2 separate regions of the Homo sapiens genome follow, and region 1 is linked to region 2. A link means that fine-mapping ties the variant in region 2 to the expression of a gene that starts in the linked region. Tissue or cell type: whole blood. Region 2 holds a variant in brackets; the other region holds the start of a gene. All regions are shown on one strand. Distances are from middle to middle.

Region 1 (10,459 bases), 80 kb before region 2:
AGCTATTGTGGAACTATTGCCATACATTCTCAAAATTTATTTTAAATGAAAACAGATAAGCATGAACCCAATGTTATTGCTATTCATGTGGTTCTAAACCCTAATCTTCACAGAAAAATACTGTTACTCCTTATGCAAAACTCTGTATCACAGCCTCTATGACTTAAAACAGTTTAATATGGTATTACTGATGACCATGGAATAACTTTATTTTATGAAAAGAAAGACATAGCAAATATACTTGTGACTACATATTTGAAAACGCACTATAAGACTATTGACAATTAATGCACCACCCTTTCAGTTGGTAGATGTTTCTCAATTTTAAATATATTTATTTTTATGATATTGAAGCCCTATTCTGTTATTAGAATTAGTTTATTTATTTGGAATAATTCACTTCTTGGATTGGATGGATGCCAAGCTGGATTATTACCCTAGGCTGCTGATGGAAAGCATCCAAAAGTTTTACCAGTTCTTTTGTTAGTTTCTTGTATAGGGTAAGAATAAAAACTCATTTAAATTGCCATAATTTATGCAATGAAACCCAATAAACTAGCCAAATTTCAAGTTCCTGCCTTCCATCAACATTTCCATTAGATGAAAACTCCTTCTTTATCTAAACCAATTGATGGTAGTTAGATCTTTTAATGGATTTGATTCTCTACTTAACATTCATGAGTCTTTAGGATGAAAACTGCTTCAGAAAATGAAGATTTCAATGACTAGTTTAGTCTGAATCATCATGGCTGAAATTAGAAAACACAAAGCCAGTGTGATCAATGGGAAGATCATTGACATAAGTGTCAGTTTCTGTTAATGGTGTGGCCTCTAATTAATTTTGTGATCTTTTGCAAGTTACTTAATCCCTGTCTGTTTTTTACTCTGAGAGATAATAAAATTGGACCAAATCAATGGTTTGCAAATTGTTATATATGTGCACAACACTTTTGAAAAAAAAATCAAATAAAATCTCATGGATTCCTAACATGCAAGTAGAGAAAAGCAATATTGCAGCAATATTTAAGCTTCATAAGCTTAAATGGGTAAAATTGTGTAATGAGAAAAAAAATAATGTCTAGTGTTAGAGGAAATAGTTATAATCTTATATCAGTCTCATCTGTTTTTGTGTGTGTGTGTGTTTGTTGGAGAAAATGATTCATAGCTCACCTGCAATCTTAATACTCTTTAGTCCGAGCAAGAAGCTTGAAAGAGAAGTAATAGAAAATGTTTTTAAAGTTGAATTATTTGCAATACCTAACAAGTATATCCGTTCTCGTTAATACTCATGTCAGGCAAAAATTACCTAATAGACTAAGTGCAAAAATATCTATAGTATGATATCTTGGCACAGCATTTAAGTGGATAGACCTGAGCTGCATTCTTATTACAGGTCTGAATGTTTAGAAAGAAAAGAAAAAATGAGGTTTATGGAGAACTAATGTTGGTAGAGTCTTGTGTACAGCATATTCATTGAGTGCTAGCTCTATTCTCCAGGAGCCTGTTGTCTAAAAGTGGCCTGCTGTACCACCTATTACACATGCAATTTGTAATGCATTAATTTGGAGCTTCTGATAATTCAAACAGGATTAGCTACCTATCAAACCCCCCTTTTTCATCCTAAATTGGTAGAAGATAGCAAAGGAAAATTTAAAATATTTCAAAAAGACTTTTGAATATGGTATAAATATAATTTATGTTAAATATATTTAAAAGCAATTAAATATTTGACTATGTATTACTATATATGTACATGTAATGGTGATGTATGTATTTTCCATTCTTTACTATAAAATGTTAATATGTTAAGGCAGTTTAACTTAATTAATAGTTAAACTATCATATATTTAAATACTCTGGAATACTTACCCTTTGCAAATGGAAGCTGCTCCTTGTCCTTAATAACACTTTCTCTATAAGCTCTCTTATATGACCTCTACTTTGCTTTCTTACGGGATTGACCACGCCTCTATGAAACATACTAATGAATGCCCATGGCATGCCCATGCTCCCACCTAGTAATTTGCTACCTTCTCCTAACCCGCATACTTCTGCTTCTGCCAGTTGAGTTGTATGCTTACCAGGATTCAGTTATAGTTGTTTCCAAACTTATTATATCAGTCATACTGTTAATATTAGGTAATTAAATGTCACATAATCTCATAAATATGAGTATCAAAGAGTTGTTTTGCCTTTGAAAATTAAGCTGAATACTTTGAGAGGACTTTAAGCAAATTGCTTTTAAAAAAAGGTTTCAAGTATGGGAAAGAAAACTGGAAAATATTGGAAAGTGTATGGGCTTTGTGAAGTTTTTGCTCAGATTGTCCCTACTGCCTTTTGGTTCTCACTCCACTTTAAAAAAGCTTAAATTGGAAATGATTCATTGTGAATGCTGTTCATTCAAGAAAGATCATCAAGAAGGATCACTTGACTCTTGTAAACGGACCTATACTCAAAAGGCTTTGGCACACTGTCAAGATATTAGTATACAAATGTGCATTTGTGTTTAAGTTAAAATGAGGTATGAAGGGTAAAATGCAAAATAAGTATATATTTTCTATAAGTTCCCTGCTATAAATTACTTTCAATGAACTGAAAACTACCTTTCTTTCCTTTTTTAAAAAAATTTTTTTGGTTTTGTTTTTTGAGACATGGGCTCCCTCTGTTACCCAGGCTACAGTACAGTGGCGTGATCCTAGCTCACTGCAGCCTCAAACTCCTGAGCTTACATGATCCTCCCACCTCAGCCTCCTGAGTACTTTGGTCTATGAGTGTACACCACCATACCCAGCTAACTTTTTTTTTTTTTAGAGATGGGGTCTCACTATGTTGCCCAGGCTGGTCTTGAACTGCTGGTCCCAAGGGATCCTCACCTTAGCCTCCCAGAGTGCTGGGATTACAGGTGTGAGCCACTGTCCCTGGCCTGAATAACTACCTTTCTAACTACATCAGATAAGAGACTTTCTGCTATAGTTCACATTGGGCTTTTGTGCACCCAACTGCAGATCACAACTGTATTGTGACTGTTTTCCCAAAGTAAGTTTGACATTCAGTTTGCTTTTATTTATTTCCTTCATTAATTCTATAAAAAATATTTATTAAGCCCCCATTGTACTCCAGGCACTGCACCAGCCACTGGAGGAGACTTGTGTGACTGAGGTAGATATAGTCTGTGGCCCTAGTAAATTTGCAGCTTGGGAAGAATACAGATAAGTAAAATGAAGCACCATGCTACAAGAGAACACAGAAGGAATACTGACTTGTATTTGTAGGATGCGAGGCGGCTTCTTTGTTCTTTTTTTGTTGTTCTTTTTGTTTTTGTGGGGTTTTCACAGTTAAAAAAAAATCTTCCTCACTCCTTGGTATGAAACCGAATGAGAATTATCTTTGACAAATGATTGGCTTGCAGCTTATCCCTTAATGAGCAGCTCCTGTATGAAAGCCAGTGTTATACACACAGACACAGACTCACACACCTTGGCACTGTTTCCCAGACTGCCTGTGGCAACCGTGCTTCCAGGAAGCCCAAGTTCTATGAATTAGATATGCACTTAATATCAAATTAAATATTAGAAAACTGTCATCACAGCCATTACCAGGCATGCTGCTGGGACCCCCAAAAGTTTTGATTGAACGCTGCGCATTATCCATTAAAAGGAAAAGTATGGAGGCTCCAGATGTTATTCTTCACCAAAGGGGAGTACACCTTCTTTTGTTAGGCAAGCTGAGAAGGGGATAATCAACTTTCACTGAGCTGAGTGAAATCTAGGCTCCTAAGGCCTCAGCCAAGACCCTGGTTTATTCACCAGGGCCCTTCCCCTTGTGAGTCCTGAACCGTAATTCTTGTTCCCTAAGCATGGTGACCCTGCCAAAAACTTCACTTTCTTTTCAGTCTTTCCACTTAGCCTTTTGCCCTGTTAATCTTTTAGCCTTTTGCTCTCTTAACCTCTTGAAGAGAAAACCAGGGTCAGTTTTCTGCCTCTCACCAGGATCTTGGCCTCGTATATTTTCAACTTTGTCTTTTGAACCCTCCAAGGCTATCTAGAGCTCTGCTGATTTCTCTGCTCCAGTGGCGGATTCTTACTCTACATCTAAACTCTGCAAATGTCCCCGAATAAAAGAAGTTGCAGATCAACAGATCAACAACTCACCCCTCTGTGATTCTACCCTCTTCAAACTGTGGCCTTGATAGTCACCTATGCATCAGCAGTTCTCTTATGTCTTTTAACCGAGTTTTAAATTTAATTTTATTTTATGTGGCCTTTCTAGTTATTTTTGGTGAGAGCATCAGTCTGCTGCCCGACAGCCTATTCAGAGGCAGAAGTCCTAAGCCTGTATTTGAAACCACAGGGCAGGAGCTGTGTTCAAGCATGTAGCTTTTCATAAGTCTAAAGGACTTTATCCAGTTTCCATCTGGGGGCTCTAAAAAGGTCTTCTCTGCTCAGAAAGTTAATGTTCCTCAAGATTTGACAAATGCGTGTCAAAATTCATCTTGTTCCTCCTTTTAACATCAAATGGTGAGATTTTCTTACAAATACATTAAAGCATAACATTTAGTGATTCCATGTGTTAAGCCATTATTTGTTAAATCAGCTTTATTTTAGTACGGCTTATAGACTCACTTGGAGTTGACCAGGATTGATTTTGGCAGGGAGGTACATCCTCTCCCTGCTTTCTGAAGGTGCCATTGTGTGTGGAAATGGAGAGATGGTCTCGGCTTTGGCGGTGCAGGCACCTGGAAAGATGCTCAGTTTCACTCTGAGAAGCTTCGGTCAGTGCTGGTCACCTGTGCATAAAGAGCCAGTGGACTCAACTGTGGGGAATATCAAGGTCCCAAATATCTGACTGTCCAGAAGCATCTTACTGTCCTTAGTGAATACGCAGGAATCAGTCTTTCTCTGAGGCCGTGGCAGGGCACAGATCAATCAGGGAGAATAGTTGGTCCCAGACCAGAGCCCACCTAGAACTGAGGATGTGTAAAGGGTGTCTGACTGGCTTACTCCTTGGCTTAAAGCCACTTTAATCTAGGACGTTGCGGAAGCCAGAGTGTATGTCGATTCCATTAAGGAAAGAAGAGAAATGCTTATGGAAACAGTACCACCTCCATATCCATTGGCCTCCCCTTCCCGACCTCCACCCTGCTGTACCCATCAGTCATCTGAAAGGAAGATCCCACAGAGTTGACAGACTCCTTTAGAGAGAAGATCGTCATATGCTCTCCGTAGGTTACCTGTCTATTTAGAAGCAAACCTCTCGTCACCCGCTGCGGAGCATCTCGATGTTAGAAACCACGCCACTATTTTTAGTGTGTGTCCTTGTGCTTCTGCACGATGAGTCAGGGTTCTCTTTTAAAAAATACTTGGCATTCCTCAGAAGAAAGATAAACACATTTAATGTTCTCAGTTGCTACTATTCTAATCGCAAAGTCAAGAGTTCCTTCTTTTCTTAGCTGCCTTCAGTGCCACAGAACTATCTGGGCCTCTTCCTCTACCCCTCCTTGTGTGATCGCTCCTTTCAAAAGCAACAGCCAAAGCAGATGCAAGGGAGATGCATTGGTGCTCATAAATTCAAGGAGCTGAAATGGCAACAGCTGTGGCAATTTCAGGATTTCAGCAGGTAATCAAGTAAGTGCAAAAGCGGGATTTGACAATTCTACAGGGGACTGGGACAGAGGGCAGCGAGAACTTGAGCTTCAAGGAGAATCTTCACTAGCTATCAACAAGAAATGTAAATGCTGTGACTTTACCCAGTTAAGCACAGCAGATTTTCCTGCTTTCAACTCTAATCCTTGAGCAGCAGGAGTACCCTTTCCCATCTCACAACATTTGACTTTCTCAGATATATTTATTCTATGTTATATACTGCAGTTCACCTATGTATTTTGGGGTTAATTTATCACTGGTTGAATAACATCGTTCAATAGACTTATGAAAAGATGGGCATTTTCAGTTGTGCCAATTTAGGTGAGGCTTATGGACAGTGTTTCTTCCAAAATGTTCCCAAGTCTAAAGGACCATGATTCTCAAATTCTCTGTAAAGTATAACTAGGTCTCTTTCTCACCTTGGAAGAACAGCAGCTAGAGGCCAGCATTCAAGGCATGGAACGGAGAAGGTATATGGTGCCTTGTTCTCTTTTGTTATTAGATGTAATTATGAAATATAAAACTAGGACAAAAGCAAGTTGTAAGTGTTAGCATAGTGGCTACGAGCACAGACTCAAGCCAGTCTGCCTAGGTTCAAATCCCAGCTCTGCCACTTGCGGGCTTTGTGACCTAGGACAAGTTTCTTTACTGTTTTACTGTCCCAGTTTCTGCATCTGTATAACATTGCTAGTAATACCCACTGCAAATGATTTTATGAGAATTAATTTACTCACTGTTTGGGAAGTACTTAGAATAATGCCTAGCAATAGTAAGCACTCAGTAAATGTCTTTTATATAGAGCATGTATCTATCTCTTCAATAACAAGCACCTGTGCAACAGTCAGAACACCACAAAATAGCACTATAAAGACAGTAAAAAATATCCCTTTGTTTTTTTTTAACATGTCTTTGTATTAATTAGAGCTCTGCCAGCTGCAAATTCAGAAATCCAATTTCTGAACTAGCCTAAGGGGACACAAAAGGAACTTATTGCCTCTTGGGATTGGGAAGTTCAGTGTGCCTCTGATTTCAGGAACAGCTGAATCCAAGAGCTCAGACTCTGTCCCCATCACTGCTGCTGTCTCTCTCCCTTTGTCTCTTGACTGTGCTCACATAATTATACCTGCAGTCTTTCACATGACAGGAAAGGTGACCACCACCAGCCCCTTGCTTATACCCAACTAATACCTATATATTAGTTGGTCTTACACTGCTATAAAGACATACCTGAGACTGGGTAATTTATAAAGAAAAGAGGTTTAATTAGCTCACGGTTCTGCAAGCTATACGGCTTCTGCTTATGGGGAGGCCTCAGGAAACTTATAATCATGGCAGGAGGGGAAGGGAAAGTAGGCATGGTCTTCACATGGCCAGAGCAGGAGGAAGGTGGAGGGGAAGTTGCTACCCACTTTCAAACAACCAGATCTCAGGAGAACTCTGTCATGAGATAGCACTAGGGGGATGGTACTAAACCATCAGAAACCACCCCCATGATCCAATCATCTCCCACCAGGCCCCACCTCCAACATCAGGGATTACAATTCAACATGAGATTTGAGTGGGGACACAGAGCCAAACCATATCACCCTCCTAGCCTAGCATCTCCTGCAGAAATGGTCTCCCCTGATGGGAAGAGCTGTGACTGGCTCAGCCTAGAAGCAGTCACTATGGATGGAGGGATATTGTTACCTAGCTGGACCAGGTGCCTACCTCTGTACAGCTTGGGGTGGGGGGTGGGGAGGTTGGAGTGAGGCAAGGTTGGCAACAGCAGTTCCAATCAAACCACACCACAGCTATGGAAATGGGTACCCATGGGAATGAGTGGTCCTGGTATTAGAGGAAAGTGGCACTAGGGGATGATGTTGTGCAGTCCAAAGCAATAGATGCCCATCTGAAGCTAGCTGGGAAAAGGCTTGAGTTCATCAGCAGGAGTGTACATTTCATAAGACATTTCATTTTTGAATGTCTCATTTCATATTTATCCCATTTCGTGGACAAATATCCATTATAAACATATAAACATCAAATTATGTCTGATTTTCTTAAGTCAATGAATAGTAACTGATTATCTTTTGATCTACAATACTCTAAAAAGTAGTTATAATTATGTATAGAGATAGAGTCTTCATCCTTCTGTATAGAGATGGTGTATTAGTTCATTCTTATGCTGCTAATAAAGACACACCCGAGACTGAGTAATTTATAAAGAAAAAAGAGGTTTAATAGACTCACAGTTCCACATGGCTGGAGAGGCCTCACAATCATGGTGGAAGACAAAGGAGGAGCAAGGACACATCTTACATTGCAGCAGACAGGAGAGCGGGTGCAGGGGAACTCCCCTTTATAAAACCATCAAATCTCGTGAGATTTATTCACTATCACGAGAACAGCATGGGAAAGATCTGTCAATGTGATTCAATTACCTCCTACCAGGTCCCTCCCATGACATGTGAGAATTATGGGAGCTACAATTCAAGATGAGATTTGGGTGGGGAGACAGCAAAGCCACATCAGATGGCAAATAAATATGTTTCATCTATTATGCCAACCTATGAAAATTGGGTGTGAATTTCCTAGAACACTCTGTTGAGAGTTTCTGAGGTTGCGTCCTTGCTCAGACAAAATGATACCTGCCATCGATATGGTTTGGGATGTGGTGGTACATATGCCAGGTAGTAACTCCCTGCATACTGCCAGTTTAAGAACGCTTACCCACAAACTGAGGACATATGTGGAGGGATTTTCTGTTAGAGTCACTGTCAGAGCTGAGCTGCCAAACAATGGCAGAACTCATTCAAATTGGCCAGTTAACTGCCCGATGTAGCAGGTTATGCTCCTAACTGAGCAGCCTCACAACACCACACGTGAGTGCTGGGAGGCTGACTCAGCTCTGTCTAGAAAGAAGAAAATGCTGATTTACCTCTTTCCAAGCTGCTTGGATCTGCCTCTTGCAAACAACAAGTAAATAAGGGCAGGAGGTAATTTAAGCTTTTCTTTTTCATTTAGCTTTCTTTTGTAGTTTAATACTTCAACTGAGGTCATATATGTACTGTTTCATCAATTGCTAGGCGTAGTAAGTGTTCATCAATGGTAGCAATTTTCATGATTCTTTTCACAACTTTTTTCCTTATAAAGCATTTATTTTATCACTAAATAAAAAGAATTATATAGCCAAACTTAGTTTAAAGATTTGCTTGGAAAATTTCAGAGATGATACCCCTGTATTAATCATGTTCTTTTTTTTCATATTTTATGATGCTTTGACACTGTGGGGGCTGTGTGGACCTGGGGAGGGACTGCCCCTCCAGGGGTTAGCTAATTTTTAGAGATAGCAGACAACTTGCCTGTGAGCACACCTTTTGTATACAACCCCACCAATCCAAAGCCCATATCCTCAACCACCACCTTTATCTCACTCTAATACACCAAGCCAGTATTTCCACTGCCAAATCACCCAAGGCCGGGCATCAGACAATTAGAGACCACCCCTATGGCCAGAGCCTGCCCACATTATCCAAACTATCCAATTCTAAGCTTGCTCAAACCTGCCTTCCCTGCCTCACCCTTTCTCTCCCATGGAAACCACAGTAAGACTCTAGACCAGGCTTTTCCCTCATTCCTTCTGCTTCCTGACTGACCTGGGTACTTCCCCGGAGGCCTGACATAATATGGCATGCCCCTTCTCTTGGAGCCTGTAAGTAATAAACTCTTCTTTCAAAGACAGTTGTCTCTATATCTGTGATGAAACTGTCTTTGCAAAATTATGACGGTGAGAGAAATCTAACATAACTGACTCCATCTTGCTTCTAACTTCACAAGCTAAGCCTTTGCTCATTCTAAGCTAACTATGGGAGGAATTTTGTTTATAATTTAACTTTAAGACAAAGATGATAGCAGTTCCTTCCTGAAAGTAACCCCCACCTTACTCGGGGACCAAAATCACCTTTTTAAAACTAATGAAAGTCCACAAGGTTACAATTGTGATAGGAACCTGAATTCTGCTAAGATGTAGGTATAAACCCTAACCAGTCATTGTTTTATAACTTGCTTTTTAAAAATTACTTACTACTCAGGAGTGATGTAGCCACAAAATTTATAACTTCACCAATTGCCCCTATGGAGAACATTGCTATTGTAAAACCAAAGACTGGTGTTTGAGATATGTTTCAGATCTTCAATTCTGTATGAACCAACTGGCACCACCCAGACCAGTAACCCACACTCAGGAACTAACTCAGCACAAGACAGGGTCGACCCCCTATGATTTCATCTCCAACCCAGCCAACAAATATTCCCCATTCCCTAGTCCCCTGCTTGCTAAACTAGCCTTGAAAAACCCTAGTCCCCAAATTCTCAGGGAGGCAGATTTGAGAATTATCTCCCATCATGCTATTTGGCTGGCCTGCAATAATTAAATCTTTCCTTGCTGTGAACACTCTTGCTGCCCTCAGTGCATTGGCTTTTCTGGGCAGTGGGCAAGAAGAACCTGCCTGGGCAATTACAATCATACCTGTTTAAGACAAATCCCAGGGCTGGGTGCAGTGGCTTACACCTGTAATACCAAAACTTCGGGAGGCCAAGGAGGAAGGATTGCTTGAGCCCAGGAGGTTGAGGCTGCAAGCGAACCATGTTTATGCCACTGCACTCCAGCCTGGGCAACAGAGTGAGACCCCGTCTCTCAATCAATCAATCAAATCCCAGGTACATTTTAAGATACTCCCATAACCAAAAACGTAGGGCTGAAGAATAATATGCAAATAAAAAAATAGTCTCAAAACTGAAGTGAAAGTAAAAATGTGGAAAGAAGAAAGCCTTTG
Region 2 (10,459 bases):
ATTCCACTGTGGTCGGAGAACATCCTTAATGTTATTTTTATTTTATTGGCTGTTTTAAGGTTTGTTTTGTGACCTAATATATGGTCTATCTTTGAGAAGGGTCTATGTGCTGAGGAAAAGAATGTGTATTCTATAGCTATTGGATGAAATGTTCTGAAAATATCTATTAGGTCTATTTGTTCTATAGAGCAGATTAAGTCCAATATTTGTTGATTTTGTGTCTGGATAATCTGTCCAATGTTGAAAGTGGAGTGTTGAAGTTTCCAGCTATTATTGTATTGGGGTTTGTCTCTTTCTTTAGCTCTAACAGTATTTGCTTTGTATATCTGAGTGCTCCAGTGTTTGATGCATATATATTTATAATTGTGATATTCTGTTGCTGAATTGACCCCTTTATCATTATATAATTACCTTCTTTGTCTCTTTTTATAGTTTTTGTTTTGAAATCTATTTAGTCTGATATAGCTTCTCCTGTTGTTGTTGTTTTTTTTTTCTTTTTTTGGTTTCCATTGGCATGAAATATTTTTTTCCATCCTTTTGTTTTCTGTTGACATGTGTCTTTATGGGTGAAGTGTATTTCTTGTAGGCAGCAGATCATTGGGTCTTGTTTTTTTATCCATTCAGCCACTCTCTGTCTTTTGATTGGAGAGTTTAGTCCATTTACATTCAATGTTATTATTACCTAAGCACTTATTTCTCCCACTTTGCTTTTATTTTCTAGTTGTTTTGTGGTCTTCTTTTCCTTTTTTTTTCCTTCCCTTCTGCCTTCCTTTAGTGAGGGTGATTTCCTCTGGTGGTATGTTTTAAATTCTTGCTTTCTATATTTTGTGTATCTGTTGTATTTATTTTATTTGATGCTTGGGAATAATATTGTATAATCCATTGTTTTATACTGACAACACTGATTACATAAACAAACAAACTTACAAACAAGCAAAGAAAACACTAACAAAAACTTGACACTTTAACTGCATCCTGCCACTTTTTAACTTTTTGTTGTTTCTGTTTATATCTTTATTATACTGTCTATGTTTTGAAAGGTTGTTATAGTCATTATTTTTGATAGGTTCATGTTTTTGTCTTTCTACTTAAGATATGAGTAGTTTACACATCAAAATTACAGTGTTATAATCTGTGTTTGTCTATGTACTTACTATTACTAGTGAGTTTTGTAGCTTCAGATGACTTCTTATTGCTCATTAATAGCCTTTTCTTTCAGGTTGAAGAACTCCCTTTAGCATTTATTGTAGGACAGGTCTGGAGCTGATGAAATCCCTCAGCTTTTGTTTGTCTGGGAAAGTCTTTATTTCTCCTTCATGCCTGAAAGATATTTTCACTGGATATACCATTCTAGGGTAAAAGTTTTTTTCCTTCAGCACCTTAAATATGCCATTCCACTCTCTCCTTGTGTGTAAGGTTTCCACTGATAAGTCTACTGACAGATGTACTGGAGTTCCTTTGTATGTGATTTGTTTCTTTTCTCTTGCTAAAAGTAGCAAGATTCCTTCTTCATCCTTGACCTTTGGGAGTTTGATTATTAAATGTCTTGATATAGTCTTTTGGGGATTAAATCTGCTTGGTGTTCTATAACCTTCTTGTACTTGAATATTGATATCTTTCTCTAGTATTGGAAAGTTCTCTGTTATTATTTCTTTGAATACAGTTTCCATACTCTCTCTCTCTCTACCTCCTCTTCAAGGCCAATAACTCTTAGATTTGTCCTTTTGAGGCTATTTTCTAGATCTTCTGGCATGCTTTATTCTTTTTTATTCTGTTTTCTTTTGTCTCCTCTGACCATGTATTTTCAAATAACTTATCTTCAAGCTTACTAATTCTTCTGCCTGATCAAGTCTGCTATTAAGGGACTCTGATGCTTTTTTCAGTACATCAATTGCATTTTTGAGCTTCATAATTTCTTCTTGATTGTTTTTATTACATAAATCTCTTTGTTATATTTATCTAATAGAACTCTGAATTCCTTCTCTGTATTATCTTGAATTTCATTGAGCATCCTCAAAACAGCTACTTTGGATTCCATATCTTAAAAGTCACGTATCTCTGTCTATCAGAGATTGACCTCCTGATGCCTTATTTAGTTTATTTGATTAGGTTATGTTTTCCTGGATGGTCTTGATGCTTGTGGATATTTATCCACATCTAGGAATTGAAGAATTAGGTATTTATTGTAGTCTTTGCAGACATGTTCATGCCTGTCCTTCTGGGGAAGGCTTTCCAAGTATTCAAAGAGACTTGGGTGTTATGATCTAAGTTTTTGGTCACTAGAGCCATATCTGGATTAGGGATTATCCCAAGCCCAACAATGCTGTGGCTCTTGCAGACTCATAGAGGTACTACTGCCTTGGTGGCCTTGGGTAAGATCTGAGAGAAATCCCTGGGTTACCAGGCAGAGATACTTTTCTCTTACTTTCCCCCAAATGAATGGAATCTCTTTCTCTACGCTGAGCTGCCTGGAGCTGGGGGAGGGGTGATGCAAACACCATCACTGGGATTGCACTGGGTCAGACCTGTAACCAGCACAGCACTGTGTCTCATCTAAGGCCCTTGGTGACCACTGCCTGGCTACAGCCTATGTTCATTCAAGGTCCAAGGGCTCTACAACCAGCAGGTGGTGAATCCAGCTAGGCTTCTGTTCTTCCCTTAGGATGGCAAGATCCCCCCCAGCCCTAGGAGGGTCCAGAGATGCCATCCCAGAACCAAGGCCTGGAGTTGGGAACTTTCAGAAGCTACCTTGTGCTCTATTTTGCTACAGCTGAGCTGGCACCCAAGCTACAAAACAAAGTGTTTCCCAGTCTTCTCTTCCTTTTCCTCAAGCAGAGGAGTTTTTCCTTGTGGCCACTACTGGCTAGGCATGTGGTAAGTACTGCCTGGCTACCACTGATATTCACTCAAATCCCAAGGGCTCTTCAGTCAACTTGTGGTAAATGCTGCCAGGCCTAGATCTCTCTTTCAGGGCAGTGGGCTCCCCTCTTGCCCAGGATGTGTCCAGAAATGTCATCCAGGAGCTAGGGCCTGGAATGGGGTCCTCATGACTCTGCCTGGTGCTCTGTTCTACTGTGGCTGGGCTGGTATCCAAGTTGTAAGACAAAGTCCTCTTTACTTTCCCCTCTTGTATCCTCAAGTATAGGGAAGGAGTTGTGAGCTGTACTGCCTGGGGTTGGGGAAGGGGTTATGCAAGCACTCTGTTAGCCCTCCCAGCTGGTGTCTCACTAGGTTGTGTGCACCCCAAGTCCAGTGGCTCTGAGCCCAGCATAGCACCAGGACTTGCCCAGGAATTGCAGTCCTCGTGGCCTAGAGTGCCTTTCAAGTTTATTTAGGATCCTAGAGTACTTTAACCTATGGTGGTGGAGCTTGCCAGAGTTCAGTTTCTGTCTGCTGGGATGGACAATTCCCCTCTGGCTAGGGCTCATCTAAATGTTCCCTCTGTGGGTGCTGGCTGAATTTTTCCTTGTTTTGTTTTCCACTGTGATAGGGCAGAAGTGAGATCCAATGCAAAGTCCCACAATCGCTGCGTAGTCCCTCCCCAAGTGCACAGATTTTCTCTCCATGCCACATGGCCACTGCTGGAGGATGGGTGGGGGGGTGACATAAGTGATTCAAGACTGTCTTTCTTACCCCCTTCTGTATCTCTTTTCTTAATATGATGTTAAATCCAGGTACTACGATTACTCCCCTAATTTTTGGTTCTTATGAAGGTGCTTTTTTGTGTGGATAGTTGTTGAATTTGGTGTTCCTGTTGCGGAGACCATCGCTGGAGGGTTCTATTCGGCCGTCTTGCTCCATCTCCTGAAGCCTGACTTTTTTGAGCATGCCCTAACAGTATGTCCATATTTGTTTAAATTGTTATGACATCTAAATAGTTTTCAACTGAGGTCAAATATTTTTAAGGATAAGCTGGTCTGTAATGACTAGAGTGGCCACATAGTTCATCACTCAAATCTGAACAGTATCAAAGGTGAAAAGAGGCACTAACTGGGTATGATGCTGGGGCCACAGATGTCAGACCGAACAATAATTTCTCCAACAAAGCAAATGAGAATCTCCTGCAAAAGTCCTGGAATCATGTCCTTTGATTTGCCTTTGGAGAGGAAAGACAAAGCAGAGTAGAGAAAGAAAAATGGAGAGGCAGGAAGAAAAAGAGAAAGGAGAAGAGGCAAAGTGAGAGGAGACAAGAAAAGGGCTGGACTCATTTTAGCATGATATCTGATTGATGAAGTCCTAGTTTCTAAAATACAACAACTGGGGCCCTCCAAGAAGACTAAGAACGGAGAATGAACCAAAGAATCGAAGGTGAGGTCTCCTGAGCTGACCCCACTGTTAATCCAGCTGCTAAGTCCACATTGTTTGATTTTTTCCTAGTGTACATTGTGGGCTGTAGCTGACCTTGGCAGGGATCACGATACTGGGGAAACACAGTAGTGTTTATGTGGCTAGAATATATGTATAGTTTTTCACCCCTCTTGTAACCCTTGATCCTTCTGTCTATGTAGGCATCACTACCTAAGGAAAGGAATAACTGGGAAGAAAGCAAATAACACAAAATGAGTCAATTAATTAGCTTTTTAGTTTTTAAAGTCTTGGCCTCAGGAGAACAGAACTGGAGTGTTTACA[A/G]TAGATGTGGGAGAAGTGATGAATAATAAAAAAGAAGCTTCCTGAATCCACATGGCTCTCCCTCCTTTAGGCCAAAGTGTGCCCCAAGCTCCCTTCATCAACCAACCAGGAAAACAGAGAAAGCTTGTTCTTCCTCTGAAAACAGAAGAAAGGAGAGCTTAGATCAAGCTTGTTCAACCCGCAGCCTGCAGGTCACATGCAGCCCAAGATGGGTTTGAATGTCACCCAACACAAATTCATAAATTTTCTTAAAACTTTATGAGATTTTTTTGCAATTGTTTTAGCTCATCAGCTATTGTTAGTGTTAGTGTATTGTATGTGTGGCCCAAAACAATTTGCTTTCTTCCAATGCAGCTAAAGGAAGCCAAAAGATTGAACACCCCTGTCGTAGATGGTAATGAGTCCTGGATGAAAAAGCCTGCACCCAGCTCTCTTCCTGGTAGGTACCAGGGAGAATGTTCCACAACAGGAACTCCAGATATGTTTCGGGATTGTAGTACAGAAGAAACCTGTGTTCACCTTCTCTGGTAGACTCGAGAAAGGAGGCAAGACCCCCAAGTAAGGATGGCTGTCTACTCTGCCCTGGTAGATAAGTTTGAAAATGTCTCAGAGTAGACCTGTGAATGGTGAGGTTGGGGTACTGGGACAGTAGAATTATACTTGTGTACCCAAGGGTACCAAGGAAGTGACACATGGCTGTGGATGGTCCCACCAAGTTTTCTGTGGTCTCAGAATGGCATGGAGACATCAAGGTATTGCAACTCAAAACCAGATCCAGAGTTACTATGGTATGGTCTGACAAAGGGATGACTTGGCAATGACCAGCAGGTGTCCCTGTCCCATCTAAGTAGCTATGCTAGTGAAGAGTGCAGCCAACTTAGATGAGATGCCCTACATTCCTAACCTTCATTCAGTAGCACTGTGTAATCCTCAAACTGAGATGCAATCACAGGGGAAAGGCAGGTATCCGGAAATGACTGAAATTAAATTTCTATTGCCTGGAAGAAAAGGGGGTCATTGTAAGTATTAACTCTTTCCACACCTGGGTTTGTGAACTGAGATTTGTATATACCACATATAGAAACGTGTATACCTGCACCTCATCCTATGCCCTTACACCTCCAAGTCTAGGCAGAATGCCCCATCAGGGCAGCAAGTACCTCTAATTTTCCCTAGTGCTTTTAAACATTGTACCAATTCTGTGAATTAGTCCCTTTGTGTTGATTTTATAGTCACGACTGCCATGAAGAATTTCTCTCTCAAGTCTTTCATTATTTGTGTGTTTTATGCACCATTTCCCTCTAGAAAACAGCCATCTGCTCAGAAATCAGTATAATTGCATCACCTCCATGTTCCTTTCACTGGAGGCTTGACCTTAGATGATGTGGACTTCTAATATCTAAATGTTCTTATCCAATGAGCCATGACTCAACACAATTGGAGCGAACGTTTTAATAAGATTACCTGGAGTAGGGTGGGGGTACATCTCTCTTGGTTAGCACAACTAGAATGTGCGAAACAAAAAACAAAAAGGAGGCTCTACTGCCCTTCAAGAGAACTCTGCTGCCTTTCATGCTCTTAGAAGTCTGAACTCAGACATTCAAGTAACCTCATTCAGTATAAGTTTGATAGATGAGCACTAAGTTAGCTTCATGATTTTACAGCAGGTAAGACTTCTTTTTTTTGAGACTGAGTCTCACTCTATTGCCTAGGCTGGAGTGCAATGGCACGATCTTGGCTCCCTGCAACATCCACCTCCTGGGTTCAAGCCATTCTCCTGCCTCAGCCTCCCGAGTAGCTGGGATTACAGGCATGTGCCACCATGCTGGGCTAATTTTTGTATTTTTAGTAGAGATGGGGTTTCACCATGTTGGCCAGGCTGGTCTCGAACTCCTGACCTCACGTGGTCCACTCGCCTCAGCCTCCCAAAGTACTGGGATTATAGTCATGAGCCACTGCACCCGGCCTAGGTGAGACTTTTAAAACCCAAGCTACTTTGGGAGGCTGAGGCGAGCGGATCACGAAGTCAGGAGATCGAGACCATCCTGGCTAACACAGTGAAACCCCGTCTCTACTAAAAATACAAAAAGTTAGCCAGGTGTGGTAGTGGGCACCTGTAGTCCCAGCTACTCAGGAGGCTGAGGCAGGAGAATGGCATGAACCCGGGATGCGGAGCTTGCAGTGAGCCGAGATCACGCCACTGCATTCCAGCCTGGGTGACAGAGCAAGACTCCATCTTAAAAACAAACAAACAAACAAACAAAACCCAAGCTAACAAGTGTGTTAAAACATGTCAGTTTTTTCTATATTTTTTTGTAACTTTACAAACTTGGTGTATTTAGGTTCCCTCCCCCACTTTCTCCACAGATACTCTAAGTTGCAGGGAAGGCTGAAGCTTCTAGCAATGGGAAGGAGGAGGTGGCCTTCAGTATGGACTGGCATTCACTGAGATATTGCTTGCACCATCTGCTCTTTGGACATCACACCTTTAGCCCAGTGTCTTTGTTTCCTCTTTGGTATCAGATTAGCATGTCCATGTACTCTGTGTATCCCTCATCCCAACCAAAAGCTCCTTCAGATCCACTGGGGCCCTTTATATCACTCCCTTGATATATCCAGAAGTAAGGCAAACTTCCCTTCTGTGTGTGTGCAGGAGAGTTAGACAAATGTGAAAGCCCTCTTTGGCCCCATCGTCTCCCCTGTTTTGTTGCTGCACCGTGCTGTCTGGACTGTCTTTAAGAGAACCAGCCAGGTGAGTACTGTATTCTTAAAAATCTATTGTCTTACTGTAAAGCTACAGTAATCAAGGCAGTGTGGCATCTGGTGAAAAAAACAGACAAAGAGACAAATGAAACAGAATAGAGAGTCCAGAAACGGACCTGCATGATTGGTCACCTGATTTTTGGCAAAGTAACAAAGGCAATTCAATGGAGAAAATGTGGTGCTTTTTTGTTTTGTTTTGTTTGTTTTTTCAACAAATGTTGCTAGAACAACTGGAACATCTACATGCAAAAATAAAAATAAAAATAAAATTTAAAAAAGACCCATCTAGATAAAGCCCTTACACTCTTCACAAAAATTAACTAAAAATGGATCACAGACTTACATATAAAACACAAAACAATAAAATTCCTACAAGATACCATAAAAGAAAACCTAATTGACCTTGGGTATGGAGATGACTTTTAAGATACAAAACTACAGGCATGACACATGAAAGAAATAATTGATAAGCTGGGCTTCATTAAAATTAAAAACTTCTCCTCTGTGAAGGACAATGTCAAGGGAATGAGAAGACAAGCTACAGACTGGGAGAAAATATTTGCAAAAGAGACGTCTGATAAAGGACTATTATCCAAAATATACTAAAAACCCTTCAAGCTCAGCAAACAACCCAATTAAGAATAAGAAAACAAACAACCCAACTAAAAATGGGCAAGGCTTGGCACTGTGGCTCATGCCTGTCATCCCAGCACTTTGGGAGGCCAAGACAGGTGGATCAGTTGAGGTCAGGAGTTCAAGACCAGCCTGGCCAACATGGTGAAACCCTGTCTCTATTAAAAATACATAAATTAGCCAGGCATGGTGGGATGCACCTGTAGTCCCAGCTACTTGGGAGGCTGAGGCAGGAGAACCGCTCAAATCTAGGAGGCAGAGGTTGCAGTGAGCTGAGATAGCACCACTGCACTCCAGCCTGGGTGACAGAGTGAGACTCCATCTCAAAAAAAAAAAAAAAAAAAAAAAAAAAAGGGCAAAAGACCTAAACAGAGATCTCACCAAAAAAGGTATACATATGGCAAATAAGCATATGAAAAGATGTTCTACATCATATCTCATCAGAGAAATACAAATTAAAACAACATTGAGATATGACTGCAAACCTATTAAAATGGCCAAAATGCAAAACACTGACAACACCAAATGCTGGTGAGACAAGACAACAGAAACTCCCATTTATTGCTGGTGGAATTGCAAACTGGTACAGCCAATTTGGAAGACAGTTTGGTATTTTCTTACAAAACTAAACATAGCCGTACCGTATGATCTGACAATTATACTTATTAGTATTTACCCAAACGAATTGAAAAATTATGTCCACACAAAAATCCGCACACAGATGTTTATAGTAGCTTTACTTATAATTGTTAAAACTTAAAAGCAACCAAAACGTCCTTAAGTAGGTGAATGGATAAACTGTAGTATATCTAGACAATGGAATATTATTTACCTCTAGAAGGAAATGAGCTATCAAGCCATGAAATGACATAGAGGAATTTAAATGCATATTGCTAAATGAGAGAAGTCAATCTGAGCAGGCCACATACTGTATGATTCTAATTACAGTATATGACATTCTAGAAAAGACAAAACTATGGAGACAGTAAAAAGATTAGTGGCTGGCAGAGGTTGTGGGGAGGGAGGAGTGAATAGACAGAGCACAGAGGATTTTTAGGGCAGTGAAATTACTCTGTATGATACCAAAACGGTGGATACATGTCTTTATACATCTATCAAAACCCTTAGAACATACAACACCAGGAGTGAGCCCTAATGTAAACTGTGGACTTTGGGTGACAATCATATGTCAATGTAAGTTCATCCATTGTACCACTCTAGTGGGGGATGCCGGTAGTGGAGGAGGTTCTGTGTAAGTTGGGATAGGAGCTATGTGGGAACCCTATACTTTCTGCTTGATGTTGCTGTGAACCTAAAACTGCTCTAAAACACAAAGCTTATTAATTAAAAAAAAAAAATCTATTGTCTGGCCCAGAAACTTGGCTCTGGCTTGAGTAATGAAAAAATCTCTTCCTTCAAGGCTATTGTTTCTGCTACATGTTTAGAATATGTATTTAGCAATTCCAAGTAGAGAGTCGACCTTCTGACCTTTCCTGCTATCTCTGTGATCTCTTGTATCAGAGGTTCCAACGTGAAAAACTATATGACCCAAATATGCATCCGCAATATATTTTTATGTTTGAGTTCATTTTTTATATTTTAAATCCAAGATGTTTCTTTTCCAATAAGAGGAGCCAGAGCTTCTTGGAGAAGTTGCTGATTCCAGGGCTAGGGCGAGGAAAGCAGAAGATGAGCCTCTGAAACATGTTGCCATCCCAGAAAATAAGGAAGTGCTCAAAATAGGATGAGGCATGACAAAAGCACATCACAGCCAAGCCAATTGGAAGGCACTCCCAATGGGCAAATCGAGAACAATTTGAGCAACAAAATAACAATAATAATAATGGATTGTAACCCATAAAATAAAATAAATATCCATACTAATATAAATAATTGAATAAATAAATAAACAGGGGAAAGGGATAGGACAGCTTTTCCTTACAGAGGAATTCTAATTAATAAATGTAGAATGAATGCAGGAAATACATCACCACTAGGCAGATATTACATTAAACAGTAATCATTGTAGGCAAGATCCACTGACAGATGTTAAAATCAGTGGACTAAAGTTTAATAGGAAACAGGATACTTGTAGCTTCAAAGTATTGTCCCCAAACTATTGGTTTATTAGGTAAAAAAAAAAAAAATGAAAACTTTACAATGGAAAAACATGGCAGACACCATCTTAACTGAATGATCAAAGTAAGCATCACCACTGATAGGACATATTGACATCATGTACCCCCCAATATGATGCACTGAGATGGGCACAGCATCACTTTTGTGGTATTTTTGCAAAAAAATGCAAAAATCTCAACTTAATCATGAGAAAATAGAAACACTCTACAAAATAATTGACAAGTAGTCATCTAAAATGTTAAAGTCTAACATTTAAGTCTTTAATTCATCTTGAATTAATTTTTGTATAAGGTGT

Evidence for each region. PIP is the estimated chance that this variant, and not a neighbour inherited with it, causes the effect.
Region 1: LINC02284 starts here. The variant in region 2 is fine-mapped to the expression of LINC02284 in whole blood (INTERVAL, PIP 0.93).

The regions. Positions count from the first base shown.
Region 1 is chr14:56,305,479-56,315,937 of GRCh38, forward strand. It overlaps LINC02284 (long intergenic non-protein coding RNA 2284), which reads left to right and starts at 5,511. Exons shown (of 7, transcript NR_187174.1): 1 at 5,511-5,616.
Region 2 is chr14:56,385,593-56,396,051 of GRCh38, forward strand. All of the region lies in intron 6 of LINC02284 (long intergenic non-protein coding RNA 2284), which reads left to right. Among named protein-coding and RNA genes, the nearest start is that of LINC02284, 80 kb to the left of the region's middle. The variant A/G (reference allele first, on the strand shown) is at 4,630.